Linked DNA regions of Homo sapiens: all the other regions are linked to region 1. Evidence: fine-mapped expression QTL. A gene starts in region 1. Each other region holds a variant in brackets. All regions are shown on one strand. Distances are from middle to middle.

What was found. PIP is the estimated chance that this variant, and not a neighbour inherited with it, causes the effect.
Region 2: its variant is the best candidate, but not a certain one, in a credible set for the expression of KLF5 in Th1 cells (Schmiedel 2018, PIP 0.62).
Region 3: its variant is the best candidate, but not a certain one, in a credible set for the expression of KLF5 in whole blood (INTERVAL, PIP 0.81).
Region 4: its variant is the best candidate, but not a certain one, in a credible set for the expression of KLF5 in whole blood (INTERVAL, PIP 0.89).
Region 5: its variant is the best candidate, but not a certain one, in a credible set for the expression of KLF5 in whole blood (TOPMed, PIP 0.70).

Annotation. Positions count from the first base shown.
Region 1 is chr13:73,055,763-73,061,963 of GRCh38, forward strand. KLF5 (KLF transcription factor 5) reads left to right here and starts at 3,243. Exons shown (of 4, transcript NM_001730.5): 1 at 3,243-3,826; 2 at 6,099-6,201. The coding sequence starts at 3,566. RefSeq lists silencers at 2,987-3,596, 3,917-4,006.
Region 2 is chr13:73,492,232-73,498,432 of GRCh38, forward strand. No RefSeq gene overlaps it. Among named protein-coding and RNA genes, the nearest start is that of LINC00392, 69 kb to the right of the region's middle. The variant C/CAA (reference allele first, on the strand shown) is at 3,641.
Region 3 is chr13:73,252,809-73,259,009 of GRCh38, forward strand. No RefSeq gene overlaps it. Among named protein-coding and RNA genes, the nearest start is that of KLF5, 200 kb to the left of the region's middle. The variant G/A (reference allele first, on the strand shown) is at 3,404.
Region 4 is chr13:73,298,210-73,304,410 of GRCh38, forward strand. No RefSeq gene overlaps it. Among named protein-coding and RNA genes, the nearest start is that of KLF5, 240 kb to the left of the region's middle. The variant T/A (reference allele first, on the strand shown) is at 3,266.
Region 5 is chr13:72,994,329-73,000,529 of GRCh38, forward strand. It overlaps PIBF1 (progesterone immunomodulatory binding factor 1), which reads left to right. Exons shown (of 18, transcript NM_006346.4): 17 at 4,494-4,667. Among named protein-coding and RNA genes, the nearest start is that of KLF5, 62 kb to the right of the region's middle. The variant A/G (reference allele first, on the strand shown) is at 3,614.

The DNA.
Region 1 (6,201 bases):
TATTTTTCATTTTTATTCTTGTTCTTTTTTCTGTGGCCCAAGATCACTTGGCAATTTGATACTGATTTGGCAGAAATAAATATTCTATGAATATTTTTCTACTCAAAGTGAATACAGTTTTGTTGGCTGTGATACTCTATACCTCTTAATTTCAAGCTGTGACGTTTTTGCCAAACAACTGAATTTAGATTTGCCAAACAACTGAATTTAGATATTCCTTTTGCCGTGTCGTTGTGTGAACATTGCCCTAGTGATAGCTTCATATTTCCCTCATCTCATCATTCAGAAGCTATTTATCTATTTTTTTCCACTGCCTCCTTCAAACCCCCTCCCCCAACATTGAATGCCTGTTCAGCCCCCGCATATTCATCCGTATTTATTCCCGTAAAGATAGTGACACTTATGGTTTATTCTAAGACTAAATCTGTGTTGCCCAGTGACTAAGGACTTAAGCATGCACACTGCTTCTATGCTTACCCTCCTACCTAACTTGACTACTCAACATTTTTATTTCATTCCCTCAGAATCCCCTGTTTTGGCACAGTTCAGTTAACACACCACTGCCAGGCCACTAATTGATTTCTGAAACCTGACATTTGTTTTTTGTTTTCTCCTATCTTCCCTAATGGTACAGCACTACTAAGCGGGAAGGAATGCAAAGAACTAGAAAGTTCAAAGTAATTGAGGATCTGTCCATTCACACTGTCTGGCTTCAAGCCAATGTAGAACCTGGAACATTTGAAAAATATTTATCAAGTTTTAACCCTTTTTACTAAGTCGGTGAAACAGGTTTGCAGCTGTAGCATTTATGTTAAAAGCAACAGCAAGGAAACTTGGTCGAACATGTTCTTTATATGTTCAGAATCACATGGCAAATGTCTCCGAAAAGGATTACTTTCCAATTTCCGTACTATTGTACAGTGCTAAGCTAGTTATTTTCTGTGAGACTGCAGAGCAGGGCATTTCAGAGAAACTATTACTTAAAAGTGGCAGCCCTATTTCATGAATCTTTATGCCCAAAATGGAATTTTAAAACCTGCTACTGTATTGGAGCAAAAAGGAATATATTCAGTTACTATAAGAACCCCAACGCTAGCTTCATATCTATATTATGAAAAGTGGAAATATGAAAAATTAACAAGACTAAAAATATTAAAAACTTAGTTGTATGGTTTTTTTTTTGCAATGAAAAAGCTTTTGTAAATGAAAGCATGTTAAAAAGTGGTGTGAAATTATAGAAGCATTTCCAGTAAAATACATGGATTTTATTGCAGTGAAAACTTAGGTTGAAAGACCGGGCCACTGAAGCTCTCGTAAAAAGACAAAAGGAAAGGTCTAGATAGGTTTAAAAGCACATTAAGATACAGCTACCGAATGTATTAAATCTAAGTTAGATTTAGCTTAAAGTTACAAGAGCACAAAAGTTCTATTAAGAATTATCTACATCACATTTAGGTTTGATGTTATCAGAATTAAGTAACTAAAAATCTTTCAAAGCTCAATTTTTTAAAAGAGTTACATTAAATCCCATCCTAATTCTATAATCTGTTTCTAAGCTAATTAATTACATGATAGGTTTTACATTAGAGAAAAGCAGGACAGCTTTTTAAAGATGAAGATGGACAGCATGGGGCTGCTTGGTTAGAGAAAAACTTGCAAAAGCACTTATTAAATAATACTTTGATAACATGAAAGTAGTCATCAGCCATTCTCTGAAGGCAGTGATCACAGCTATAAAAATGAATCATGTGTCAACAGGAAGAGAAGGAAAAGGAGAAAAACCCAGTTTACAGCATAATTTTATATTTTCTAATAATAAATACATTTCTTTATGTGCATATTAATTTTCTACCCATTGAAAATGAGATCCATACCTTTGATAGATACACTCTTTGAAGTGAACGTTTTTATCCAAGACTTTTTTTTAAAGCTGTTTTACTCTGAAGTGATGAATAGGCTGTGGTATATGTAAAACTGTCTAATGGTATATTGTGTGTCAACATATGTACATTTGTAGTAATATCACAGGCATTTTTATTGCAGTTTATTGTTCCGTCCTCCCAATAAGCCAGATAAAATCATGTACAAGAACATTAAGGATTAAGGGAAGTGGTTTCCTTAGGTGATTGCTGGCAAAAATTCACCCTCCCATTATAACAACATAGTAAATGGATGGTAATATATTTGGCTATTACTTTCCAACAAATTTGGATTCCCAGTTTTCAGAGCTGCTCTGTGTCTATGTTTGCGGCTTTTTGATTGTCTCTTCGTAGGAAAAGGTGCCACAATGTGAGGTAAATGTGCTAGGTTTCTGCTTTGTAAATATTAAAGTCCATTTTTTGAACATACAGTGCTAGCAAAAATAAGTCAAAGATGTAATGTCTATTTAAATACACGTTTGAGCTAGTCGTGCTTAAATTAGATTCCATGCTTCGGCTAGAATCAACACGGCTTAAATATTAGAAACTTCAAAATTCATATGGCCCAAGCCCTCCTCCCCACACACGGATGGGAAGTAGAAATGTGTGGGAAAACGTCTAGCAATTAAAATCCTGAAGGAGTGGGAAAAACCCAGGCTTTTATGCAAGGATCTGAAAAAACGCTTGCCATCAAATCTTTTATTCAGGCATTCTGAATTTGCCTTGTTAAACGGATACACTCACTGCTAAAGATACACAGGGACAAGAGCTGTTTTAAATTTGTTTATCACACCGCCCCTAGTTTTCTGCTAAAGAGAAGTACATTTTGGATATTTAAAAGTACACACTCATTAGACAAATCTCTAAAAGCCTCAGCGCCCCTACCTAGCTGCCTTCTGGGTTTCAGCTTTTGAGTTTCAGGTCCTTGCACAACACCTAAGACGTGCAATACTCTTTTTCTTCCTAATCCTGGCAGAGAACAGTGCGAAGAGATCTCCCTCCGCGTCTCCACCCTAATTCCCCCTCTTCCCAGATTCCACCCGCTCCGCTACTTCCCTCCGCCCCCGGCTCCGCCAGCCCAATCTGTCAGAGAAGTTGTGTACAAACTGCGCGGCCGCCCTGCGCGCGAAGCTCGTGGCCCGAGAGGGGTGCGGTCGGGCCGACGGAGGCGGGGCCCTGGCTGCCTCTCTCCCTGCTCATAGGCTGGCCGCTCAGGCCTGGCCGGCCTCGGGGCCTCGGGATTCGCGGCGGCGCTGCCAATCAGGCGATCGGGCCCCGCCCCCCCGGAGTTGGGTGAAATAGAGGCGGGCGTCAAGTGTCAGTAGTCGCGGGGCAGGTACGTGCGCTCGCGGTTCTCTCGCGGAGGTCGGCGGTGGCGGGAGCGGGCTCCGGAGAGCCTGAGAGCACGGTGGGGCGGGGCGGGAGAAAGTGGCCGCCCGGAGGACGTTGGCGTTTACGTGTGGAAGAGCGGAAGAGTTTTGCTTTTCGTGCGCGCCTTCGAAAACTGCCTGCCGCTGTCTGAGGAGTCCACCCGAAACCTCCCCTCCTCCGCCGGCAGCCCCGCGCTGAGCTCGCCGACCCAAGCCAGCGTGGGCGAGGTGGGAAGTGCGCCCGACCCGCGCCTGGAGCTGCGCCCCCGAGTGCCCATGGCTACAAGGGTGCTGAGCATGAGCGCCCGCCTGGGACCCGTGCCCCAGCCGCCGGCGCCGCAGGACGAGCCGGTGTTCGCGCAGCTCAAGCCGGTGCTGGGCGCCGCGAATCCGGCCCGCGACGCGGCGCTCTTCCCCGGCGAGGAGCTGAAGCACGCGCACCACCGCCCGCAGGCGCAGCCCGCGCCCGCGCAGGCCCCGCAGCCGGCCCAGCCGCCCGCCACCGGCCCGCGGCTGCCTCCAGAGGACCTGGTCCAGGTAGGAAGAGCCGCTCCCCTCCCACCGCAGCACTCCCGGGCTCGGGCGTGTCCCGTTGCTGCGACTCGCGGGCGACAGGGGCCGCTCCAGGCTGGGGCGTGCGTCGGGGCGCACCGGAGCCGGTGCTGGGTGGGCAGCCCCGCCCTGCACGCCTGGCCGGGGCCCCGCGTTTCGCTGAGAGTAAATGGGGGGGGGGGCCGGGGGTGGGAAGGATGGAGGGGAATCTGCCCCGGCGGGTCGGCCTGGGAGAGGTAAGAGGGAGGGAACTGGGTGCTCACGCGCACCTTAGTTGTTTTTCTTACACTTGAGGGACGAAACCTTGTACCTTACGCTCAGTTTTACTTAAATTACGCCTTCGCCTGTACCGCTCTCCAATGCCAAGGCATTGGAGCCCTCCCCCCCATCCCCATCGTCTCGGGTTAAGTAGAAACGCAAATTGGGGTGCTGGGGAGAGGTTCCCCAAGGTTTCATACCCGGTGGCTCAACCTGCTTTAGAAGCGATTGCGGGCCGCGTTTGGAAAATGAGAGTTAGGAAAGCTAAGGTTGTGTCGGAGCGCTTATTTTTCCTTAAAAAAAAAAAAAAAAAAAAAAGACCGGGGGTGTTGTTTTCTTCGTGTGCACGTAAATTTCCTCCCGGAGCCGCGTTGAAAGCTGGCAGTTGGCTTTTACACTTGCCCAGCAGCCGAATTAGAGCAACCGCCTGTTTCTTTCGCCCACGCAGGGAGTCATATAGCCCAGAAAAAACTTCCCGGGACTTTTAGCCTGTCCCAAGGAAAAAAAAATTGGAAACATACCCACATGCAAACAGCTGGAAGAGCTAAAATCAGAAACCACTAACCGCCGCGGGAGCGCAGTGCACGAAAGGGTTTAGTTCAGTTTATTTCAAGACACTTCATTTAGTAGCTCTTTGGCGTGTCGTATATTTGCTACCCAGCGCCTACTCCGTGGGGTCTGCCAGGGTCTTGCTGTGAGAGGGCAGTGGCGTTTGTCAGAGATGTGACTCACATGATGAGAGCGTTAATTTTTATTTTTAAATCATGTCTATCCGGGAAACCCCGTCCGCATCCACACCAAGGTCCGAGATGAAACGCATTTGAAATGAAGTAGTAGCAGAAAATGACTGTCTTATTTACCTGTTAAGGTGCCACAGCTAATATATGCGCCATTCCATCTAGTTGGTTTTCTTATCTTTCGAAATTTCCTTTTCAGTGTTAAAAAATGTAGGCTTAAGTTATACTAGGAGAGAAGATAGCTGGAAAAGGCTTGAGGCGACTTGTTACAAGCTGGTTTATAGCCTAGAAAAGAGATCACCGTTTGAAAAGTATTTGGTTATTTCAGTTTGTCAATTTTCTGCTCTGGAGGCACTAAGAAGATAAGGGATGACTGAGCTTTTTACAGAGTAGGGGGGAATGTAGCATTGGCCCACTGAGAAGGACATGATAAATGTTTTGCTGATGACTGTGCTAGGGATACAGCAGCCTCCCCACCCACGGGCTCCTTAGCAGCACTCTACCAAGGGAGTGATTTTCCCCTAGGTAATTAAAGATCTGTTTTAGATAGGGATATGAATAGGAACATTTCATTATCATATTAACCAATTACAGGATCTGCTGATGAAAATCAACATTTAGATCAAATATTGAATGTGAAATTGTTTTGTTTCAGTGGATACAAGGTTTTGCTTAGAACGTTGTGTTTAATTTCTCATTGAACTGTAAACAAGAAAAGACACTGAAATAGCCAAATAATATTTTTATATTACTTTTGAAGTATCTAGTCAAGAAAAGAAACCTGTGCAATATTTTAAAGGTTTGCATCGTTTTTTCTATTAAAAAAAACCACGCTTTTTAATGTTTGTGACTTAAACAGAATTGAGGTAGTTTGGCAACATTTCAATACTGTACTCTAATTGCAAACTTAACTGTGTAATGGGGCAGGGAATCCTGCTTGTACAGGGGTGATGGTACCTTGTTATTGCATCAGAATGGAATGTTTTAAGTTTGCTTTCTTTTTTATTCTTGATTTGCGTCTTTCACTTTTGGGGGTGATTGGGGGAGCAGTTTTACCAGTTACACAGAGTTTCATAAGGTTTTGGTCAACCAGTTATTACACAATCGACAAAATAAGCCTGATATGTTTATAAGCAACACTGAGGAGTTTGCCCTAGTACCTTACACAGGGATTGGGGGAATTTTTAGTAGGCGCCGATTGTTCGTTCTTCCCGAGATGGTGAATCAGGTGGATTATGCATTTTATATCTCTTCTTTTTTAGACAAGATGTGAAATGGAGAAGTATCTGACACCTCAGCTTCCTCCAGTTCCTATAATTCCAGAGCATAAAAAGTATAGACGAGACAGTGCCTCAGTCGTAGACC
Region 2 (6,201 bases), 440 kb after region 1:
AAAAAAGTGCGCTACAGACTGGGAGAAGATACTCCTTGCAATATTATGCTGACAAAGGACTTGTATGAAGAACAGAAAAAACTGCAATCAAAATATGATTTTTGTTGAGTTTCATTCCAGTCCTTGCCTGATACATATGTTTTCATTTTATTACTGTGTTTCTGCTTTGTTTCACAGAAATAGGATCACTCTGTACATGTTGGTTTGTACCCTTTCTCTCCCCCACCTCTGTTTAGTTGTGTATTACAAATAATTGAATCTTAGCACTGTAAGACACAGATGATATCCTTTAGTCTAAACATTTCTTGCAGGGTCCTGGAGCAGCAAAGTGACTTGTCCAGGCTTGTGTAATTGAATGATAACGGGGGAGCACTGTGTCCTGGCCCTCGTCCACTCTCTTCATCCAGGGAGAGAAAGTCTTATAGAGGGCCCCGAGTTCATCCTTTGCTCTCCCTCTGGGCTGTACCCAGTTGGGTGCCTACCTTTAGAAAAAAATATTTGTGAAGGTAGGTTTCATGATTTCCTTTACTAGCTCATTTTTTGGGGGTGTCCAGATTCCTGCAGGGATGAAATTTTGATGAATTATTGTATTCCTGTGTCCCCAGGATAAAAAGGAAAAACTCTTCAGGAGCAAGAAGGAAAAGAAACATTCACTGGGAAGAAAGGCTCAGGTTGCAAACTTCTCTTGCTTATTTATTGAGGTTAAAAGTTAAACTGGATTAGGACAATCATATTTTTCTGACACATTGAATTTCTTCTTAAGAAAACATATTTAGCTTTTTTTTTTTCATGAATCATTTCAGTCGAAGAGCCAGGAGTTATGTTCTTATGCTGGGTAGAAACACTGAAGGCCCCTTTGTGAAGGACTTAGCTAGCTACATGTATTTATTTGGCTCATTTTGTTTTTCTCCCTGGGTTAAATTTTGACTTAAATATTTGTATGTGGAGCAGGAGGTAAGGCAGTCAGGCTCATTTTTGTGATTTTCCACAGATAAAATTAGCACTAAATTTATGGGCATAGTGGCATTGTTCTGCAAGCTGTGGCCTGGAAGGTTTTCTTGTGGTTGTCACCATTTCCTCCTCTCCCAGTTTCCTCCAACTATGCTTTCTCTGGGTTCCCAAGAACTGGCTCACTTTGTGCTGGTGAGTGAGATGAAAGAGGGCTGAAAAGCAAACTAAGAGCTGCCCACCTTCTGAATAGCAACATCATGATACTAAGAAATCTCCCCCTCAACTAGACTGCCATTCTGCAAAGCCTCTTTATGCCATGACATATGTGAACCTTCATTCCAAGTGATCTTTCTGTCTGCAGAGGTCCACACAGCCACTGGATGTAGGGATTTCCCACTGACTTTGTCAATGTCTTGAAGTTTCAAGTACAGAGCACATTTTCCATTTAGATTTTCATTAGAATGTAAATAAGGCTGGTTTTTGAACTGTGGATTAAATTTCACATCCACCTACCGAAAATGGCCAGACATTACTTACCATGACATCTTCTCCTTTATAATGGGAAAATGAAGGGGAGCAGGAAAATTCCTTTATTGTTTTCATCCTGATTATAATAATTTAGAAAATTAGACAAATATAAAGGAGAAAGTAAAAATTTTTGTAATCTCACCACTGAAAAATAATGTTGACATAATTTTGGTTTGTATTCTTTTAAAAAATGGGATCCTACTATAAATATTCTTTCTGTGACTAGCTTTTTCAGTTACATATATATTGGCCTTTTTGTATGTCAATAAAAATAAATTTGCATTCTTACCAAATGAAGAACATTCCATATATAAATGTACCATTTGTATTTAATTAACTCAGTATTGATTGACAGTTGGACTCTTCCCAATTTTCACCAAGTAGTCAATCCCTGTGGTGAAAATCTTTATCATATCCTGTGCTCTTTTCCAATCCATTGCTAAGAAGTAATTCTTAGAAGGGGAATTTCCATGTCAAATGATTTGTACACCACTAAGGCTTTTAATACATGTTACTGTATTTCTTTATAGGAAATTTTTACTGACTTAGACTGTCACCAACAAATGCACAAAAGTGACTTGTTGCCATCATCTTCATCAGTTGTAGGCATGATCACTCTAAAAACCCTTTCTTAGTCTACTGGGTGAAAGTGCTGTATCCCATTATTACATGTTAATTTGAATTTATTTGTCAGTGAGATAGAATATCTTATTTTCTATTTGACTGTGTTATGATGTAAATTCTCTTTTCAAGTCTTTGCCATTTTTTCTATGGGAGACGATTTTAAAAATTGATTTGTGAGAACTCATGTATTAATTGTAGTAATCTTTTGTCTATCAAGTATTTTACATATTCTGTTTCTAATTTTGTGTATAGTATAGTGGGTTTTGCTCTACAGAAAATTTCATTCTCATGTAGTTAAATCTAAAATGTTTTTCATAATGATTTCTGCCTTTGGGTGCCATGCTCAGAAATTCTTCTAAACTAGTTTTTTAAAGTAAATGCACAAATAGGCACAAGCCTCCTTGTGCATGTGAATAGATTAGTAATAGAAGGGTCTTCAGATTACTAGAAGGCTTCAGGCTGAATATTTTTTAAATATAGAATTTACAGAAATTTTTACTCATGGAAATTTACTGATGGTAAGTCTATGCAAGACAAAAAAATCTGTGATTCACAATTATGGATTTGTAACTGTGATTATAATTATAATTTGTAATTTGTGACTATAATTTCTTAGGGATTATCATATTTAAAATAATCTTTGCTCTGGCATTTGGCATTGAAAGCCATCTATTCTATCAGTCTTTATTCCATGCCAAGATATCCATTTTGTTTTTCCTGTGAGTAATAAGTTCAATAGAAGTAAGGCCGAGTAAATAAATAATATTGAGAAGCACAATGCTTACAGTTCTATTTAAAGTGGTATAGTGTCATCATAACAAAAATCAGTACATTTATACTTCATAAACTAATGATGTTTAAATTATCTTAAGTATTATTTTCATAACTTACTAGGGTTACAAAAAGTAATAGATTTGAATTTCCTCACAAGCTTCAATTAATCCAGAAATCTCAGTTTTTAACCAACAGAAGGCATAATCACAGTTTCTCTCTTTCTTGAAAATATTATAAATGTTGTAGCTAATTGAGGAAAAGAAGGGAGAATAGAGGAGAGGAGAGACATAATAAAACAGACAGGAAGAACAGTATAGACATTGGTATTTTCCGTATGGCCTCATTCTTTAATTCTGTGCAACGAACTCATCTCCAGGGTACAGGACATCAGAATTCAAAATGTTCAAAATGAGCTAGGTGTTAAAATCTGACAGCAATTCTGAAAAAAATTGCATAATATTTAGATTAAAAAAATCATTTTCGGCTGGGCGCGGTGGCTCACTCCTGTAATCTCAGCACTTTGCGAGGCCGAGGCAGGCGGATCACCTGAGGTCAGGAGTTCGAGACCAGCCTGGCAAACATGGTGAAACCCCGTCTCTACTAAAAATACAAAAATTAGCCAGGTGCAGTGGCAGGTGCCTGTAATCCCAGCTACTCAGAAGGCTGAGGTAGGAAAATCATTTGAACCCGGGAGGCGGAGGTTGCAGTGAGCCGAGATTGCACCATTGCAGTCCAGCCTGGGCAACAGAGTGAGAGTCCATCT[C/CAA]AAAAAAAAAAAAAAATCATTTTCTAGTCAATCAAAATAAGATCCTTTTATCTTCCTTATCAGATTTGGAAGGAGCTTCCAAACCATCGAGGGCACAGCATAAGCACACTTGATGTCAGAGTTATCCATCCTGCCCTGGCCATCCATGACTGCCCACCAGTGACCCTGCCCATCACTGACTGCCTGCCAGTGACCCCGCCCAGCAGTGACTGCCCAGCAGATACTGCCCACCAGTGACCCTGCCCACCAGTGGCCCAGCACAGGTTTCCATTTGCTTTGGTCATCTTTCGGTCTTGCAAATCTTTCTTCCTTTCTCTCTTTTGCTATATTATGATCCATTAATAAAATGCCACTAGAAAATTTTCTGTGAAAACATTTCATAGTTTAGATGCCAATCTGTGTAATTTATTCAGATTGCAGATAAAATATTCAGTATCTTCTGCTGCATTGCATATAACCTGGGTTCCAAGTCAAAGACATATTAAAATTGTGATTATAATTATAATTTGTAATTTGTGATTATAATTTCTTAGGAATTACTAGATTTAAAATAATCTTTGCTCTAGGAAAAATTAAGTGTAAAATGCTATATGTAGGATGAATGTATTTATTATCCAAACCAGGAGATCTTTGAAAGTGAAGGGATGGAAAGGACTATCAATAAGTAAGCCAGAATAACAGAAATAAACTGGAAGTGTCCCAGGCAAGCTAGGGCGTAGGATCCCCTTGTTTGGAAAGAGATTTTAAAATACCATGTGTGGATATTGTCATCATTGAATACAAACTGCTCTTGAGATTTTCTGTTTAAATGGATCCCTTTTAAAGGCTCTGATATCTTAAGGAAGGAGGAGATAATAGATGCTATATGCAACTCTATTATCTGGCCATCTTTCATTGAATTGTAGGCTTCCTAAGACGTAATTTGTTTTACTTTTTTTTCAAAAGGTTAAGGAATAAACAGCTTAAAAAATGGCAGATTTATAGAAAGATACCACCACTGTAAAGGCTTTTAAAGCCTGTGTTTATGCTTTCTTCAATTGTGTGTTTGCTTATTTTTGATGATTGTGAAATATTTGTAAGTATTTGGTTATTGACTCACTGGATTAGAATGTAGTTTGTATATGGTAAATACAAAAAGCAGTAATAACTACGGGGCACTATTAATAAGCAGAAATAATAATAGTTATTCCACATATATTATCTTTAATTTTTATAAAAACCTTGTAATGTACCGTTAGCCCCATTGTATAGAGAAGAAAATGAGGTTCCCTAGCTCGATGAAGGCCACAAAGTTAAGACTAAACAGGCTGACTGTCTGAATCTAAAACCCACGATCTTCACTACACGTTGTCTTTTTCTTAAGAAATATCTTGAGATTGTCCTTGTCTAATGTCCATCTTCATCTCCAATTTTTTCTGGGATGATTAAAGACCCATAATTACAGTATAATATTATTCCTAGCTTTAGCTTCTACAACTGATGGTTGTATGCCAGAGACAGCAGTGACGTTATTTACTCAATCGCAGTAGTTTTGGAGGTTATAATGGACTAAAATGAATAATTTTTTCCTAAACACACTGCATCGCTGCTCATTCCATTTCCCATAATGGCTAACTGACTTGGTAGCCAGTGTCAACCACTTCTTACATATTCTGGGCTACTGTATCCCACAGCCACAGCATCTTCCTGAGCCCTATTTAGATAACAAGTAGTAACAGGCCCCTGATTACTGTGGAAATTGTTCATAGGAACACAGGTCTAACGAGTGGTAATGACACATGGGTGAGCATAAACATCATGCCATTGCTTTTACGTAACAACAATAACCTCACTCACGAAACCTGCCTCGGTGTGTTTGTATCCAGGAGGCAAGCCAAATCAGTCTCCTACAGGACCTGAGATCCAGGAATATTGGGAACAGTGGTGCTGAAAAATCCTAGCAACTGTTATCTGTATTCCCATAAAGACGGACCTATAATCCACCTGCTACTACATTCTAGAGCCACTCTGAAGTAAAAGGGTATGTTCTTGGTTTTAAGGTATTTGCAATCTACCTGAACGCAAAATTGACCTTTTTCAAGTTGCTTTCTTTCCACATCCCATGAAATTTAGCATGCTGGATTGAAGCATTTCTTAGAACGCGTTCCAGTTGTATTTCTCTTTCTAACTTGATCTTCTCGTCTGCCTATCACATCAAACATATCAACATTCTCCTGATCCTAAAAAACAAAACTACAAAAATTATAATAAAAATTTCATATTCCTTTAACAATGCCTCCACTCAAATTCTTGCCTTGTATCCAACTTTCTATTTTTATTTTTACAGACAGGGTCGTGCTCTAACCTTGAATGCCTGGGCTCAAGTGATCCTCCCACCTTAGCCTCCGGAGTAGTTGGAACTATAGGCATGCACCACCACACGTGGCCTTTAGCTTTTTATTGATGTTGTCATACATTTTTTATACTTCTTCTTTTATTTAAAAATAGTTTTAAGGAATTTTTATTTTATTTTTGAACAATCCCAGCCTTTTAGAAATTGTGCAAGTATGGTATAGAGCACT
Region 3 (6,201 bases), 200 kb after region 1:
TAGAAACAAACCTATTTATTGTGCTGACATTCTTGTCTTTAGAAATTATTTTGTTACGTCTTCACAAATCAAAAACACTAAATGTATGTCAATGCCTGAAATAAATGATAAAATGTCCCTGTGTATCAACCTAAAATCATTTTATAACGTGGAATGGAGATTCACTTCTTACAACTTTCTAGTAGAGATGGCAGGGAAGGAATCAGAATTAGAGGCCAAATCCAAAGACTACCTTGAATAAAAGAGTTATGTAATTAGCATGTTCCTATCTCCACTTAAGTACAGTCTTCTATTTTAAGAGGCCATTAGGTGTCCATTGGGATCAATTAATGGCCTCTTGGAATGGCTTCACGGCAACTAACTAGGGTGTCACCACCACAGTATTGTACGGTATTGACCTGAATGGCTTGAAACCTGTCTCACTTCTAGTATCACCTACAGTCCTGTCATTTTCAAGCCTCAGGTCTTCTGAATGTGTGAGTCTCAAAGCTAACCTGAAAATTTTCTAGGTAAATCTTAGTGTTGGTCTTGATAAAGAACCAAATGGGCCTTTAAGGGATGCTTTGATGATGGAAGATAGGAGTATGCATGAAAAACCGAATTCCACAGATAACACAAGAATTGCATTAAAGTGACGTCTCGCCTTTCTTCTAACCAGAGTTTTAAGTCACAGCCAGCTACTGGAAATAATTGTAGGCTGGCTTGAGCTGGCAGTGGCAGGGGATGGGGATTTTTGATCCAGTGTGTTTAATGACAGACCACTGGAAATGCACATGGACACTGATCAGTAAATAGTGAGCTGGCAGAACTGTCTTTTTAAGTCTTTAAGACGTTTTGGGGCTGGGCGCGGTGGTTCACGCCTGTAATCTCAGCACTTCAGGAGGGCGAGGCAGGTGGATCACCTGAGATCAGGAGTTCAAGACCAGCCTGATCAACATGGTGAAACCCCATCTCTACTAAAACTACAAAACTAGCCAGGTGTGGTGGCACATGACTATAATCCCAGATACTTGGGAGGCTGAGGCAGGAGACTAGTTTGAACCTTGGAGGTGGAGGTTGCAGTGAGCTGAGATCATGCCATTGTGCTCCAGTCTGGGCAACAAGAGCAAAAGTCCATCTAAAAAAAAACACACACACATTTTGGGAGGGTGTCTGGTCAAATGTGGAAGTGTTTCTTTTCCAGGTGGGTCATTTAGTTGAGTTGGAATGCCCCAAATGTAGCCATCCCTCATGGTACATCTAAGGGAATCTGTTTCTCTTTCAATGAGCCTTTCCTTGGTTTATTGCAGGCCTCTATTGGAGCTACTAACCAAAAAATGAAAAGGAACTAGACCCAGAGAGGATCAAATGTGTAAATGCCAATTCAGAGAGGTGAGCAAAGCAGGAAGAAAGAAAGAAGGAGGGGAGGTCAAGATGAGAACTCTGCTGACTCCTGATTCTCCAAGGTACAAATTCTCTGCTGTGTTACCTACCCAGGCCTCTCTCCCACTCCTCTCTTGCTTCTGACTGGAAATAGGGAATTGGAGGAACATGTCTTGGGAAAGATGCCATTGTGTGCTTAGGCTGAGGCAGTCCCAGAAGGCTGGAGCTGGAGGATAACGTCAGAGGTCCCTAGTCAAGTTTCCTTACTATATAGATGAGGACTCAAGGCCCAGAAAGGTGGAGGGATGAGTGGACGTCTTTAAACATGTCCAAGAGAAAACAAATGACTTTGTTTAGTTTTCTGATCCCAAGTGGGAGGAAATAATTAGGAAAAATATTCCAAACATTTAAAAAGCTGTCTCTTAGTATTTGTTGATGATGCATGTTATGTTTCATACTGAATTTGATGCAGTGGTATAGAAAAATCATGGGCTTGAACACATTTCCTCAACAGACAAACTCAACACATATAAAACAGTCAGTCAGTGGTGTCAGAAGCAAGGGTGAACATGGATGACCACACTCTGAAGCTGATAGTTTGCCACTCGAGAAGGGAATGGCTTTCCTCTCCAGCCTCCTGGGGCTCACAGGCTAGATGGAGTTATACAGGGATTCACCATGTTGATGGAAAGGGAGATCCTCTGGAGCTTGTAGTTTGTGGAGGTGGGAGAATCTTCTCCCTTCAGCTATTCCAGAGAGGCTGTTGCTCATGAGGATTTGGAGTCTTGAAATGGTTACAGATCATTACCTGAGTCATCAGGAAGGATTCCCTGGATTATTCTCTCTTCCTTCTTCCTTTTCTATTTTGTCCTTATCACATCGTGGCTCAAGGCTTTCTAAAAGACCTGTTCTGATTTCAGAATCTATCGTTCATGATCTTTCTCAATGTTTTCTTTTCTTCTTTTGCTAGTTGGATCACATTCAGCTTTGATCTCTCATTAACCAGAAATTTCTATTCTTTTGACTCATTCATTTCCTTTAGCAGGAAATTAAAAATGAGCCACTATTTTATCAGGTATAACCTGTACATGATTTTCTTTTCTTTTCATCTAATGTTTAAGTTGTTCTCATCTATATTTTAGATTTACAGTGCCTGTTTCAGGCCTATTTCAAAAAGGAGATATTTTATTTCTTAATTAGAAAGGCTTTTTATTTCTGAGCATAACTTGAACATTTTAGCATTAATATCCTTTTGCTTTTCTGAGTTGAGGACTTAGTACTTTATAGTTATTTAGAAATATATGATTCTTTGCTATTCTTTATAAGTGTATTTTGTTATATAAACTCATATACACTTTTTAAATAATTTCTTTTTTTCATTTATTATGTGTTTTGAGCCATTATATTTTATTTGCTAATATCAATTTTGCTATTGTTATGGAATACCTCTAAAGTTCAAGTTTTGGATTTCCAAGTGTGACCTCCAGTTGTCTTGATGAGAGAATATACATTATCTGTATCCAAAATGTCACTCAGGGCCAACTGGTCTTTTGATATTTGGCTTAAATACCTTGTCCCATGTGCAGTGAGAGACTCAGTCTTTCCAAATGTCTCAAGTCATTGAGGGGACAGGGCACCTCCATTTCTCCTGGCTTCTTCTGGCCCTGGGGTCCTTCTTCTGTGGATTAGTGCAGTTCATGGTTTACTCACATCTGTGTGCTGTTCCTTTTATGCACTGTGCACCCCACACAGAACATCATCCAAGTCCTTCCTGTCCACATTCTCAGGCTGTGTGTATGGCAGACATTCACTGAAGTTTTGGGGCAATGGAATTGTTTAACTAAAAGAAGTTTAAATTATAGCATCATTAAAATAAAGTAAAAAATGGCTGGGCACGTTGGCTCACACCTGTAGTCCCAGCACCTTGGGAGGCCGAGGCAGACAGATCACCTGAGGTCAGGAGTTTGAGACCAGCCTGGTCAACAGGGCAAAATCCTGCCTCTACTAAAAATACAAAAATTAGCCTGGCGTGGTGGCAGGC[G/A]CCTGTAGTCTCAGCTACTCAGGAGGCTGAGGCATGAGAATCACTTGAACCTGGAAGGCGGAGCTTGCAGTGAGCCGAAACAGTGCCACTGCACTCCAGCCTGAGTGACAGAGCAAGACTCCATCTCAAAAAAAAAAAAAGAAGAAGAAGAAGAAGTAGATAATATTGCAGCTCTCGAAAATTTTTGGTCCTTAAGAGCTTCTTTCTCACTGTCTACTTTTTTCAGCAAGCTGCCTGGTTTGTAATACTCCTTTATTCTCTATTCCTCAATCCCCACCCCTTTTAGTGACATTTTCCCTCTGGTCCCCTCCCCTCCCCTCCCCTCCCCTCCCCTCCCGTCTCCTCTCCTTTAGTTTCCTTTCCTTTCATTTCCTGAGAGGAAATCTCGCTCTGTCACTCAGGATAGAGTGCTGTGGTGTGATCTTAGCTCACTGCAACCTCCGCCTCCTGGGTTCAAGCGATTCTCATGCAGCCTCCCGAGTAGCTAGGATTACGTGGACGTGCCAGAACACCCGGCTAATTTTTTAGTAGAGACAGGGTTTCACCAGTTTGACCAGGTTGGTCTCCAACTCCTGACCTCAAATGATCCACCTGCCTCAGCTTCCCAAAATGTTGGGATTACAGGTGTGAGCCACTGTACCTGGCCAAATCTTGTTATTTCTTATACTGAGAATTCAGTTCTCTAGGTAAGTCCTGCCTTCCATCAAGGCATAATTTTAAGACCTCAGTTTACACCCAGTGTTTCATGTAGGTATATTCCCAAGACTCTTTTTCCCCCTTTGAAGAACTCTAGCATCTGTTGTCAGTCCTCTGTGTCAACTCACCTCTCATCTCTCCTTCCAAATTACATGAATTTAAATACAAGGAAGCCATAGTCTCTTTGAAGAAACCTTTTGATAGTCTTACTGTTTTAAATGCCTTGTCTCATTTCATTTGAAAATATTTTAATATTATGCCTTATCTTACATAAAAAATCCCCACAAAAATGATGAAAGCTATATATGTTGTCAAATTTAATACAAATGTATATAAGTGAGAGCCAAAATATCAGATCAGCTTTTACAAAAATTGTTTGTCATGTATTATTTCAAAAAGTTTTACCACATTGTTGCATCAAACTTTGTTCCTTTTTTTCCCCTCTGGTGATTTGAAGTTATACATTCCATTTCTATCTTTTATGGTTAGGGTCAACTTAAAATATATATGTAAACCTAGTTTTTAGTCAACATTAAGAATGAAGAAGTATGAATTTTCCCTGAGCTAAATGAGAAATTTAACACACCTCATCAATTTCCATATATTGTTGAAACAATTTGAAATTTTAGTTCCAGATTACTATTATTTTATATAACACACTTTCATTTTTTCTTTTCTTCTTCTTCTTTTTTTTTTTTTTTACATTGAAACAGAGTCTCTCTCTGTCGCCCAGGCTGGAGTGCAGTGGTGCGATCTTGACTCACTGTAACCTCCCCCTCCTGGGTTCAAGCGATTCTCGTGCATCAGCCTCCCGAGTAGATGGGATTACAGGCATGTGCCACCAGGTCTGGCTAATTTTTGTGTTTTTAGAGATGGAGTTTCACCATGTTGGCCAGGCTGGTCTTCAACCGCCGACCTCAGGAGATCCACCCGCCTCAGCCTCCCAAGTGCTGGGATTGCAGTGAGCCAGAGCTTGCAGTGAGCCGAGATAGTGCCAGTGCACTCCAGCCTGGGTGACAGAGTGAGATCCCGTCTAAAAAAAAAAAACCCAAAACAAACAAATAAAAACCTCCTCAATTTTATGTGTGCCTTGGGCACCAAATGCATGCCAGGGCAGCCAGTTTCCTCTACGTTGGCCAACCCTGCCTTCGATTCAGAAATGACAAACTATGGCTGATGACAGGTCCTCCTTACTCTTCATGAATGTTGACACTGGGTCTGAAGCTTGAACAGGTCTTGAAAGTGTTCTATTGATTTCTGTGGTCCGTCCTTGCCTGGAGGCCTCATCTGATCCAGAGGGTCTTGGTCTGGGTCTGGGTGGAAGGCAGACCCAGTGGGCTTCTCCTCTGCTAGGTGGCTGGTGTGCTGACACTCACCATCAACTGTGCTGTTTGTTGGTAAAACAGCAAAACTCTAGTTTTCCCTTGGATTATTACAGGAGAAATAGGAAGTGACATTCATGTGCTTAGGAAACCTGCTAGTTTTAGGTTTGTGTCTTGAGCTGGCACTTGTATTTACCTTTCTATGCTTTTCTCCCCAACACTTCCCATATCTGTTGATTTTGTTTTCTGCAAAAGACATGGTAGGGTAAATAAAAAAAAACGTGAGACTCGTCTCCAGGAACCTATGTCAGAACAGTTAGGAGCTCACAAGATAGCTGGGGAGAGCTGATGACCACACAGGAAGCATCACACAGTGGAAGGAAGCCAAGAAGCGGAAAAGCTGAGGTCAAATTCCCACTCCATCGTAAGTTGTGTGAACTTGGATAAGTCCCTTAATTTTTCAGAGTCATATTTCTGATTTCTTCTGACAAAACAGGTTTTTACTAAGGGCCACACAGTTTGGCAGCAAGGAAGACAGAAAATGAAAAGAAACAACTACCCACTGACTAGGGAAGCAAGTCAAGCACACCAAATAATGTAAGAACACTGGTGTCCTGCGTGACCAGCGACCACTCTGTTGCACTCCCATGAGGTCAGGGAATGACAGAAGATAGAGGGAGAGGAGGGATGTTATTTAACTTTCAGGCAGTGAGCCCCCAAATACACTGTTTAATACTTGTTTTGATCTTTGATTTCAGTTTTAACATAGCAGATGGGACA
Region 4 (6,201 bases), 240 kb after region 1:
ATTTAATGGAGACTAGAACCTTCAAGAAGAACTTTTCTGGCAGATATCATCCTTGAAATAGTTTTGAAGAATACAATAGTAGCTACCTGAGGAAAGTCTGAGGATGGATCATTGCAGTGAAGGGACCAGCTAATAAAGACATGTTAAATGCAGTGAAACCCTAAGAATAGAAGCTCACTTCTTGGGAGAATGTATGTAGAGGAGCAGAGAAATGGATCAATGAAAGACTCCTGAGAAACGTAACGGTAGAGAAGAAAACAAAGAATCGGCTAGGCAAATTGAGAGAGGCCAAAGTCAGAAAAGCATGGCATCACTGAAGCCAAAGAGGAATTTTGAATGGGAGAGAATGGCCCACAGAGTCAAGTGCAGTAGAAGGGCAGGAATGTGTGGCATTACCTGCAAGGAGTAGGAGACGGCCTATGATAACACATGCTAACAGAAGTGCAGACCATGAAGTTTGGCTGCAAAAGATAAGGAGAAAATAAGGCATTATCCATTAGCAGAGGGCACATGATCCTGGGACAGTGCCATTGCTGTTGCTTCAGGATGAGAGGCTTCAGTCTGCTTTTATACTGAGAGAAAGGATTAAGTAGAAACAGACAGGTTCATGAAATAACAGAGGAGATATTGTTAGAGAAAAGCTTCAAAGGAGACCAAAAGGGAGGACAAGGGCCAGTGAGGAGGGCTGTTTTTGAACTTGATGATAAAATTACAATTTGCAATTATAAGTTTATTTAAATGTTTACTTATTTATCGTTTTTGTCACCAATTACAGAGTAAGCTCAGGAGAACTGGTTCTATTTCTGTTTTATTTAAATCCTTGTGTATCTAGTGCCTAGTGTACTTGTTAAGTGCTCAGTTGATTTTTGCAAATGAATCCGGTGAATTAAAAAAATCTTTCATTTTCTGAGGCTAAAGGAGATTTCAAAATACTGGATCAGACATTCCAACAAAAATTATAATAAATATAAGCATACCATATAAGTAGTAAATCATACTACAATCTTTAGTGATTATTTTTATTCACAGAATGGTATTACACAGACTGCAATTCAACCTTAGGAGGCTGAAATTATGCCCTCAGAATATATATACACATTATTCTTTCAATTATTTCAATAATTGCATGCTAAAGGAGTGGTACTGTTTTTACTGAAGAGAAAAATCAGCAGTTTGCCTAAGACAGTCTCAAACCCAGTAGGTGGTAAGGTAGGATTTGAACCCCATTTGGTTGGCTTTCAAAGTCTAGATTTACATTCTCCCAAAGATGCTCTGTAGATTCATAGTTTTCAGTTATTTCTGGACATTTTGATGTTTCTTTGTACTGTAAAGTATTTTTCAGATGACTGACAATTGGCTGAAATGCACACTAGAATGTAAACTCCGTAAGGGCAGGGATTTGTGTGTGTGTCAGTTTTATGCTCTGCAATGTGCAGTCATTTGTAGGTATCCAAGGGGAATTGGTTCTAAGACACTGTTGGATACCAAAATCTGTGAAGGCTCAAGTCCCTGATATAAAATGGTGTCGTATTTGTATATAACCTGTGCACATCCTCCCATATGCTTTAAATCACCTCTAGATTACTTATAACACCAAATACAATGTAAATGCTACATAAATAGTGGTTATATTGTATTGTTTAGGGAATAATGACAAGAAAAAAAGTCTAAGTATGTTCAGTATATGTTCAGTACAGACACAACCATCCAATTAAAATAAATATTTTTGGTCTGTGGTTGGTTGAATCCACAAATGCAGAACCCACAGATACAGAGGGCTGGCTGTATTCCTAGCATCTGGAGTGATATCTGTGCCATGGTAACTGCTTAACAAATATTTGTCGAGTTGGAGTAAGAATGAATAAAATACTTTTGAAGGAGCTCCCTTCTTCTAGGTTAAGTTTTGAAGTCTGCTAAAATATATGCTTCTAGGGGTGGTACTAGTTTCCACTCTTGCTGTTCGTTGAATAAATAATGTCAGGGTAGGGAGGAGAAAAAAAATTGAGGAGAGGGCCTAAGGACACTGAGGTGTGAATGAGCATGGTTTGGTGGATACAGTGGTTAATTTTACGTATCAACTTGCCCAGGCTATGTGGTACCCAGATGTCTGATGAAACTATTTCTCTGATGGTGTTTCTGGAAGAAATTAGCATTTGAATTTGTGGATTGAATAAGGCTGATGGCCCTTCCCAAGGTAGATGGGCATCATCCAATTCATTAAAGGCCTGAAGAGAACAAAAGGCAAAGGAAGGTTGTCTCCCTTTGTCTCACTGCTTGAACAGGGACATTGATTTTTCCTGCCATCAGTGTTCCTGGTTTTCAGGCCTTCAGACTCAGACTGGAATTGACACTATCAGCTCTCTGGCTCTCAGGCCTTCAAACCACACCACTGGCTTTCCTCTTCCTTCCTTAATTGGGGAGGATTGTGGGACTTCTCAGCTTCCTTAATTATATGAGTCAATACCTTGTAATAAATCTCTATCTATCTATCTATCTATCTATCTATCTATCTATCTATCTGTCATCTAGCTATTTACCTACCTACCTACCTCTCTATCTCAGTTCTGTATCTGTTTCTCTATTTATATATCTATCTACCTACCTACCTACCTATCTCAGTCCTGTTTCTCTGAAGATCCCTGACTAATACAGTGGAGTTCATCTACTCTGAAGTTTGTCCAAGGCCCAGCATACACTGCCGGTCTTGTTGTAGCTTATCATTAACCATGCCAGTGAGATTTTAACTATGGGTGTTTGAAAATGGTTGGCTAATACTAATCTCTGATCCAATATGTAAGAACATAGTTACTTAATAAACTTCAAGTTGTAATTCTCACTATAATAGTTATGATGTTTATTTACAAATAAAACAAATTAATATTTCAAATAAGTGATAGCAACCAATATATATAAACCTGCCATGTATTTATATCAGCATAAGACAGTTGAATATTTACAATGATTCTTTTGCTCATTCGATAAATATTTATTTAACATCTTCTATGGGCCAAGCACTACCTTTAATGAGAAGTACACTACTATGCTATTGCTTGTAGACAGAGAATGTTTGATCTAAAAATGACTTTCAAGCACAGTAACTAGGAACTAATTACTGGTGCAGATTATTTGAAGCTAATTTGAATTTAGTTTAAATGCAATGTATCTGCGCTATCCTTGTTCCCCACCTAACAAATGACTCTATTAGTGGGGGAATTCACTCAGACTCTCACAGTTGGTATAAAGATTATTTTATTATTATTATTTT[T/A]TTTTTTTTGAGATGGAGTTTCACTCTTGTCACCCAGGCTGGAGTGCAATGGCGTGATCTCGGCTGACTGCAACTTCTGCCTCCTTGGTTCAAGTGATTCTCCTGCCTCAGCCTCCTGAGTCGCTGGGATGACAGAGCCCGCCACCATGCCCAGCTAATGTTTTTGTATTTTTAGTAGAGACAGGGTTTCACCATGTTGGACAGGCTGGTCTCAAACTCCTGACCTCAGGTGATCCACCCACCTTGGCCTCCCAAAGTGCTGAGATTACAGGCATGAGCCACTGGGCCTGGCCAAAACCATCCTTAAGTTGATATACAAAAATCTTTACTCTGCATTATTCTGTGAGTTACTCATTGCTGAGCAACTCCCACATGCACATGTAAATAAACCTTGTCTTTTCTCCTGTTAATCTATTTCCAGTTAATTTGCAGGCCCCCAAGCACTGGACCCAAGTGGTAGAGGAAAAGGTTTTCTTCCCAACATTAGTATATTTTTGCCTAGTGATTCACAGTAACTGTAGGTTTTTAACAATATAGTATGGCAATTCCAAGTTGTCCTTAACATTTACAACTTTCACCAGTGGTTATAGATGATAAAACATCCCAGGAACATAGTGTTTAACACTACCAGGCTTGAATACTGACTGATCCACTTACTAGCTGTGTAACCTTGGGCAAACAAATCAATCTTTCTGTGCCTCAGTTTTCTCATCCATAAAATGAACATAAAGATAGTACTTATTTCATGGAGTGGCTAAGAGGATCAAATAAATGTAAAGCACTTAGATTAGGGGTAGATGTATAGCAAGGGCTCAGTTAAATATTATTGTAAGATCTCCATACGGGCAGGGAAGGGGGTCTTGACCACATCCTATTCTGGAACTCTCTAAACACCAGTTATCCCCTGGCTTCAAATTACATTAAGTTGCTTCCAGGTCTAAGGAAACATTTCTGAATTGATGTTACTGTTGTGGCAAAGAATGTTCTTTTTTTCAGGATACTAATGTGTACTTCTCTATGATGTTTTTTATTTTTCAAAGTAGTTTACGGTTTCTGAATATTTTGGGATCACTATGGAAACTTGTAAGGTTTTGAACCTTCATAACCAACCCAAATGCCAGTACACTTTGAAAGGTTTATTAGTAATGCAAGTGTGAAGCTACCAGTACTGTAAATAATTACAATAATGAAAGCAATTATACACACTAAACAGCTCTTGCAGGCCATTCAGTTTTCCAGAGCTTGGCTTTGACAGGCTAGAAAGGTGGAAGAAAAGAAAGATAGAATAATCTGTTTCTAAGTGTACAGAATTTTGCTAATCTTGCTTATCTGAAGTCATAGTCAACACTCATACAGTTTTCATAGTGATAATAATGGCTATCATTTATTGGTTACTTAAATCCTTGCCAATCTTTTTACAGACATTATCTCTTCTGACCTTTAATACATTCAATAAGATAGACGTTATTAGTTCTGATGAACAAATGAGGAAACTGAGCATTTTAAGGCTAAATTCGTGTATCTAGTAAGTGGTGATGGTTCTGTTAGAAGTCACCTAGGAGTATCTAATTCTGAAGTGAGACTTCTTAACCACCACACTGAACAGCATCCATGGTGATGGTGTTCTTTCAGCATTTAGATAGCTTCTGTAGTTCATCTACAGACAGACTACACTTGGAGCCATATTTTAATGCAACAAAAATGTTAAAAATGGGCATGAGTGTATGTCTATATATGGAATATCAATATGCAATAATAATACAAAGAGCTTCACAAAAACTCCTTTATTTTGGCAAAAGGAAGGTATATTAATTTCTCCTCCTTGTTCTCATTCTCCTCCTTCTTCCTATTCCAATTACCACAACTACAATTCTCCTCTTCCTCCTTCTCCTTTTATTTTTTATTTTTATTTTTGACATAGAGCCTTGCTCTGTCACCCAGGCTGGAGTGCAGTGGCACAATCACAGCTCACTGCAGTCTTAGCCTCCTGGGCTCAAGCTGTTCCCCCACCTCAGCCTCCCAAGTATCTGAGACTACAGGTGTGCACCACCATACTTGGCTAATTTTTTTTTAAGAGATAGGGTCTTGCTATGTTGCCCAGGCTCATCTCAAACTTCTGGGCTCAAGCGATCCTCCTGCCTTGGTCTCCCAAAATGTTAGGATTACAGGCGTGAGCCACCATGCCTAGCTCCTCCTCCTTCTTCTTTTTTTTAACCACTCCACAAAAAGATTAAAGGGACATGAAGAGAGAATATCACTCTGGTTTCAGAGGTTGACCAGATGATACGGAAAGAAATAACTTGCTAAAGCAGAAATGCTTTCAACTACTCTGACGTTCACACGCTTTGCTTTGCCAGCATTCGTAGTTACCTGCATCTTTTTTCTAAAAAATCTCATAGGCTTGTCAGAAAGTTGTGACTCAAATATACCCAGATATATTGAACGGAGAGTGATTAATTTAGGCCTTGCTTATTTGGTGCTTACTTGCTTCTTTTTCCTGTGATGAGCATGAGTTTTCTGAGTCAGCGACTGTGTCCCTCTGTAGTAGGTGGGTGACCTGGCACTTCTCTGCTGAATCAGAGGATGCTGCATGCTCACGTTTCCTGTGGGCTGAGTGAATACATGAAGCTCTATCATGCATACTTCTTATTCATGCAACACTTCAGGTAACAAGCAGCAGCAAACGTTAATTCCCAGGGAATGCCAGCAGGACGATTCACGTGGAGGAAATAGTTTGTGATAAAGATTCATCTACTGCTAAAGCCTCTTATTCCCCTTCCAAGCTTGTTTCTTGTTTAAATATTGCTTATGTGGAAAAAAGCCAGTGATATTTTGAGGCTTTTTTTTTTTTTTAAGTAGAGGTGATTCTAATAGGATCAGCAGAAATGGTGATTCTAATATGATCAGCAGAAATCGTGAAAGACTAATTTGGGTTC
Region 5 (6,201 bases), 61 kb before region 1:
TTTCTATCAATGAGAAAACAAAAGGGCAGAAACTCTGAAAAGAGGGGAAAAAAATATTTGTTGGAAAGTTGAAGTACAAATAGGAACCTAAATCAATGGCATGATTTTTGAGCAGTAGATACAGTATAAGAAAAAGAATCCAGTCAAACTTAGTACTTAAAACATTCTTCTTTGAGCATCACAGTTTCCTTTTCTGTAGTCACATTCTCTGCAATAAACAATATTTACAAATAATGAGGCAATGCTGCAAATAAACCCACTGACCAATCAGAAAAATGATAGTTATAGAAGAGGAAAGTAGAATCAAAAGGCAGGGAGATGAGATGCCAAACTCAAATGCAAACAATGAGAGCGGAATCTGAAATACGAGATGAAGCCAATACCCAGAAGCCAGACACAGGATAAGAACCGAACCAGGTTAGAAGCAAAGCAGAGGGCTTCAAAATGATTTCATCTTACCAAAGGATTTCTCTTCGTAGTGACAAAAATGTTTTCTAATTATTGCCTGTTATGTTGGATTGTTTCCTGTTTGCTTTGTCAGTTTGTGAATTGGGATCTCATGAATCATGATCATTTCATTGTAATAGTAGCATCAACTAGGATAGGACAATTTATGTCAAAAAGGTCGGTGTAAGACATATTCAAATACTTTCATGGCTGTGAACACTTAATATAATAAAGAGGTTCTTGCGGACAGGTGCGGTGGCTCACACCTGTAATCCCAGCATTTTGGGAGGCTGAGGTGGGTGAATCATGAGGTCAGGAGTTCAAGACCAGCCTGGCCAAGATGGTGAAACCCCGTCTCTACTAAAAATAACAAAAAATTAGCCGGGCATGGTAGTGGGCACCTGTAATCCCAGCTACTTGGGAGACTGAAGCAGAGAATTGCTTGAACCTGGGAGGCAGAGGTTGCAGTGAGCCGAGATCACACCACTGCACTCCAACCTGGGCGACAGAATGAGACTCCGTCTCAAAAAAAAAAAAAAAAAGTTCTTTCTAATTTTGTTTTCCCTTCAGCATGATCCCACGCCTATCTCCAAGAATACAGCCAGAAAAATACATCATTCATTAAAGAGTAAAACATTAAAACAGTGCGACATGGGTGCATAAATAGACAGACTGTAGAAACAGAGTTTTAAAGTCCATAAATAAATAATATACTTACAGCAGTTTAGTACATTATAAAGATGGCATCAGTGGGGGAAAAAATGGTCTCTTCAGTACATGATGTTGTTATAGGAGAGCCATCTTGAGGGGACAGATGTTGTATTCATATGTTTTACCATAAGCCAGGATAAACTTTAAACCAATCAAAGATCTATATGTTTGAAAAAGAAAAGAGGCTGGGCACAGTGACTCACGCCTGTAATCCCAGCACTTTGGGAGGCCGAGGCGAGTGGATCACGAGGTCAGGACTTCAAGACCAGCCTGGCCAAGATGGTGAAACCCCGTCTCTATTAAAAATACAAAAATTAGCTGAGCGTGGTTGTGGGTGCTTGTAATCCTAGCTACTCTGGAGGCTGAGGCAGAGAATTGCTTGAACCTGGGAGGCGGAGATTGCAGTGAGCCGAGATCTTGCCACTGCACTCCAGCCTGGATGACAGAGCGAGACTCCATCTCAAAAAAAAAAAGAAAAGAAAAACCACAAAAGTAACTTAAGAAAATATAGGAAAAAAACATGGAGAAGACCACAGAAGAAAAGATTGACATATTCTGCTACATCACAATCAAATGTTCTTCATAACAAAAAAAAAAAAGCGGGGGGGGGGGGTCATAAACAAAGTCAAGTAAGAGGTAAACTGGAAAAATTGCCACTCATATTAAAGACAAAGGGCTAATTTCCCTAACATATAAAGAGCTCCTTGAAATGTATAAGAAAATGACCACTCAGTAGAAAAATGGGCCAAGGCAATCAACTGAAAAAAAACCTTCAATATATTAAAAAAAAAAAAAAACTGCTCAACTTCACTGTAAAAGGAATGCAAAATAAACATACACAAACCCTTATCAGACTGGCAAAAATCCTAAAAGGTAACAGAAGCTTACATTTTATCAATTATAAAACTAAAGCTCATTGAACTAGATTAGGCAGCCTAAGTTTAAACAATAATAATGTCAAGAATAGATGTGTCGTTTGCTAATAGCTTTATACTAAAATAGTACCACTACATGTGCTTAGCCAGGTGCAGTGGCTCATGCCTATAATCCCAGCACTTTGGGAGGCCAAGGCTGGAGAATCACTTAAGGCCAGGAGTGAGAGACCAGCCTGAGCAACATAGTAAGACCTCATCTCTACCAAAAATTTAAAAATTAGCTGGGTGTGGGGGAATGCCCCTGTAGTCCTAGCTACTCAGGAGGCTGAGGCGGTAGGATGGTTTGAATGAACTGTGATCACACCATAGCACTCTAGCATGGACAACAGAGCAAGACCCTGTCTCTAAAAAAAAAAAAATTGAAGTGGAATTTTCTTGGTTCAAATTTACCATCGATATAAGTTGGATCATTATATAAGCCAAACATAATAAAATTGAAAATGTGTTCTAAATGTTATTTGGGTACCCACTGTAGCTGTATTATCCTAATAAGAATTTTACAGAATTTTGCTGATCTTAAAGTGTTCTTTGCCTGGATTTCAGAAACTGCTAATATTTTTTGTACAGTCACATTAACGAAAGTGGTACTGTGACAACACCCCAAACTGGGGTGATCTTAGGATAAAGCAAAGATGTGAATTTCCCTTCTAATCTCCTGACCACTAAACCCCCCTTTACCTTATTTATCTGTAGAATAGTGCTAGATTGTTTTGGAGGGGATTTTTGCTCTTATTTTATCTTCATGCCAAAGATAGAAAAGTTGTGGCTAATAAAGAGATGTTCTTTCAGATAGAAAGTTTTTCTTTTCATAGGCTTTCCCTTCTACTTATCTTGGTAAGTAGAACAGGAGCTGAAATCTACCATAACACCATACCCATTTGACATCAAATCAATAATTATATACTTCACCATAGTGGAGCATATAAATGAAACAACATAATCTTGAAAGCAAAAAGAGTCCCCAAATGGCCCAGATAATCATATATCAGATTGGCAATGTCTGCAAGTATATGCATTCTCATGTACATTGGCCAAGCCAGGCCCACTACTGCAGAAAGGAGAAAGGATTCTGACACCATTTCTTCTGACACGTCTCGCAACCCTAAAATCTATTAAGGTTATATGGCTTAAACTCAGCAACACTGCTTTAAAATACTCACTCAAGTTAGATGGTTCTAAATAGAACTAATGACAGCCAGAAGAGAAAGGCCTGTAGGAACTTGCTGTGACACAGAGCTGGTGTCTATAAACAGATTAGTAGAAGAGAGCAGAACATTGTTCTATCACCATAACTTTCGTGTTTTGGCATGAAGATACAATAAGATAATAGGAAAAAATTACCTGTTACATAGCCTACCACTGTTCTGTTCTGATAAATAAAGATTAAGAAGAGTTTAGCCTGTCATCTCTCCATATACTTGTATATGATGTATCAATTTAGTAATTAATCATAAATACCCACTAGTGTTATGTACTAAAGATTTGTCTATGGATATGAAAGACAAATACACTTGGGAGCA[A/G]GAACGGGTGAAATTTTTGATCTCTTCAAAAAGTTCATCACAATTAATTCTTAGTTCAAAGGGCAACTGAAGCCAACCCCACTTATCATTTGTAAAAGGATAAGGGATAATACAGCTAAAGAAATCCTGAATCTGTATTAAACTTACTGTTTAACTGCTGACTAGTAGCCAAGATTGGATTCTTTTTCTCTACCATCTTTATATAAGAATTCAAAGGAAATGCGACAGTTTAAAAGAAGAAGAGAAAAAGTTAAATGCTTAAATAGTCTACTCAGCGAATATATGTGGAGCATCTACAGTGGAAGGTAGCTATGCCAGTGGTTCCCAAATTTGTCTGTCTATTAGAATCACTTGAGATCTTCAAAAATTCCAAAATACAAAAAAATTAGCTGGGCGTGGTGGCATGCGCCTGTAGTCCCAGCTACTCAGGCACTGAGGCAGGAGGATGGCTTGAGCCCAGGAGGTAGAGGCTGCAGTGAGCCGAGACCACACCACTGCACTCCAGCCTGGGTGACAGTGAGATCCTATCTAAAAAAAAAAAAAAATTCCAAAGCCCAGGCCACACCACATCAATTATCTCACAGTCTCTGGGGTTGGGACACAGTCATCACTGGCAATATTTGAAGCTCCACAGGTGATTTCAGTGTGCAGAAAAACGTGGAAACCACTAGACTATAGAATGTTGTAATTGTCAGTTATATTAAATGAGTATTAATGATCAAAAGATTCATGTGCATGATTCTAATTACTATTTTATTTTCACAACTTATGTGTGTAGTATAATTGTTTCTTCTACTTAAAAATATTTTAATATTAATCATTATTAGTCTGCTTGCTAAAATCACTCTTGCTACTTTCTTCTGTTTTCATATATCAACAGGAATTGGCAGCAATGAAACAGATTCTCGTTAAGATGCATAGTAAACATTCTGAGAACAGCTTACTTCTCACTAAAACAGAACCAAAACATGTGACAGAAAATCAGAAATCAAAGACTTTGAATGTGCCTAAAGAGCATGAAGACAATATATTTACACCTAAACCAACACTCTTTGTAAGTACAATTTTTAAAACTCATAATTTTAATATTCCTGATTCTTACTAAATGTATTTTAGTTAATTTTTTCCTTTTACATTTATGAAATGAGTAGATTCCACAAATATGTTTCATGAAAAGACCTTGAAGGATTTGCATTAATCCATTTTCTAAATGTGTATATTACCTATCTTATAGATGATAGTATATTTTACTGTAATTCCTCATAAAGTGTGAAATCAATTAACATAAACTGAAATGCATTGTTAGCTAAAAATATATGTGCACAGAAATTAAAGAAAAAGAAATAAGAAAAATTTGGATTAAAAGGTAAAATACCAAAAATATGTACAGTTATTATGTGCCAATTTTTAAAAATAGAGAAAATAAATTAGGAAATATTGAAAACTATATATTTTAACAAATAATAAGAATCAAGATTAAAAGGCAAGAGAATTAAAATAGGAGTAACATTATTAAATATTCCATTTTACTTCAAATGGTTTCTCAATCATGCTTTCATTTCTCAGGAGAAACATGATTTTTATCTGCTAAACATAGAGACTCAAAACCAGAAAGATTTTCTCTGATATTCTGATTCAGTGAGTCCCCAGAATCTTAATTTTTTTAACTCCCAAGTTGAATATAATAGTCAAATATGAGAACTTCTGATCTCAGTCATTTTATTATACATGCAGATAATGCTACTGAAGATTAATAGGATGAAAGAGATTTTTTAGTGATTATATAATTCAACCTCCCTTTTTAAAAAAATGAAAGTTGCAGTTTAGATCAAATAAGAGACAATTGGGCAGACATGGTGGCTCACACCTCTAATCCCAGCACTTTGGGAGGCCAAAGTGGGAGGATCACCTGAGGTCAGGAGTTCAAGACCAGGCTGGCCAACATGGTGAAACCCTATCCCTACTAAAAATACAAAAATTACCCGGGTGTGGTGGCACACGCCTGTAGTCCCAGCTACTTGGGAGACAGGCAGGAGAATTGTCGGTGCGATGGCACCACTGCATTCACCACCTTGGCGAGAGAGTGAAACTCTGCCTCAAAAAATAAAATAAAATAAAATAAGGGACAATTATTTTAAGGATACGTGTGGCAGTAATGTAGACTAAGCTGACAGGCGGGAGAAAACAGGATGGCTCAGTTGACTAGCCTGGACACAAGGCGGCTGAGTCCATGCATCTTTTCCTCTGTAGTACATCAGCTTCTCTTTGTTTCTCCTCTAGTTTCTGCTTACTCATGTTTTCCACTTCCTCATTAACTTGCTCACAGCCCTTTGTCTTGAAACAGGTTTCTGTACATCCTTTCTGCATCTACTCTCTTATAATGTAGTTCTCCCTGTATTTTCCAAGACTAACAATCTAATTGGCATAGCTAATTCTTGTTGGGTGATACCCCTTTTTGGCAAGACTTCCTAAGCTTATTACCCAGCCTACAGAATGGCTGCCCTTAATGGTGAGCAGGAGTCACACAGTTCCAAATACAGCTGCCGAGGACTGTTTATTAAGGGCTATGGCTAGGCAGGTTTTGCTCA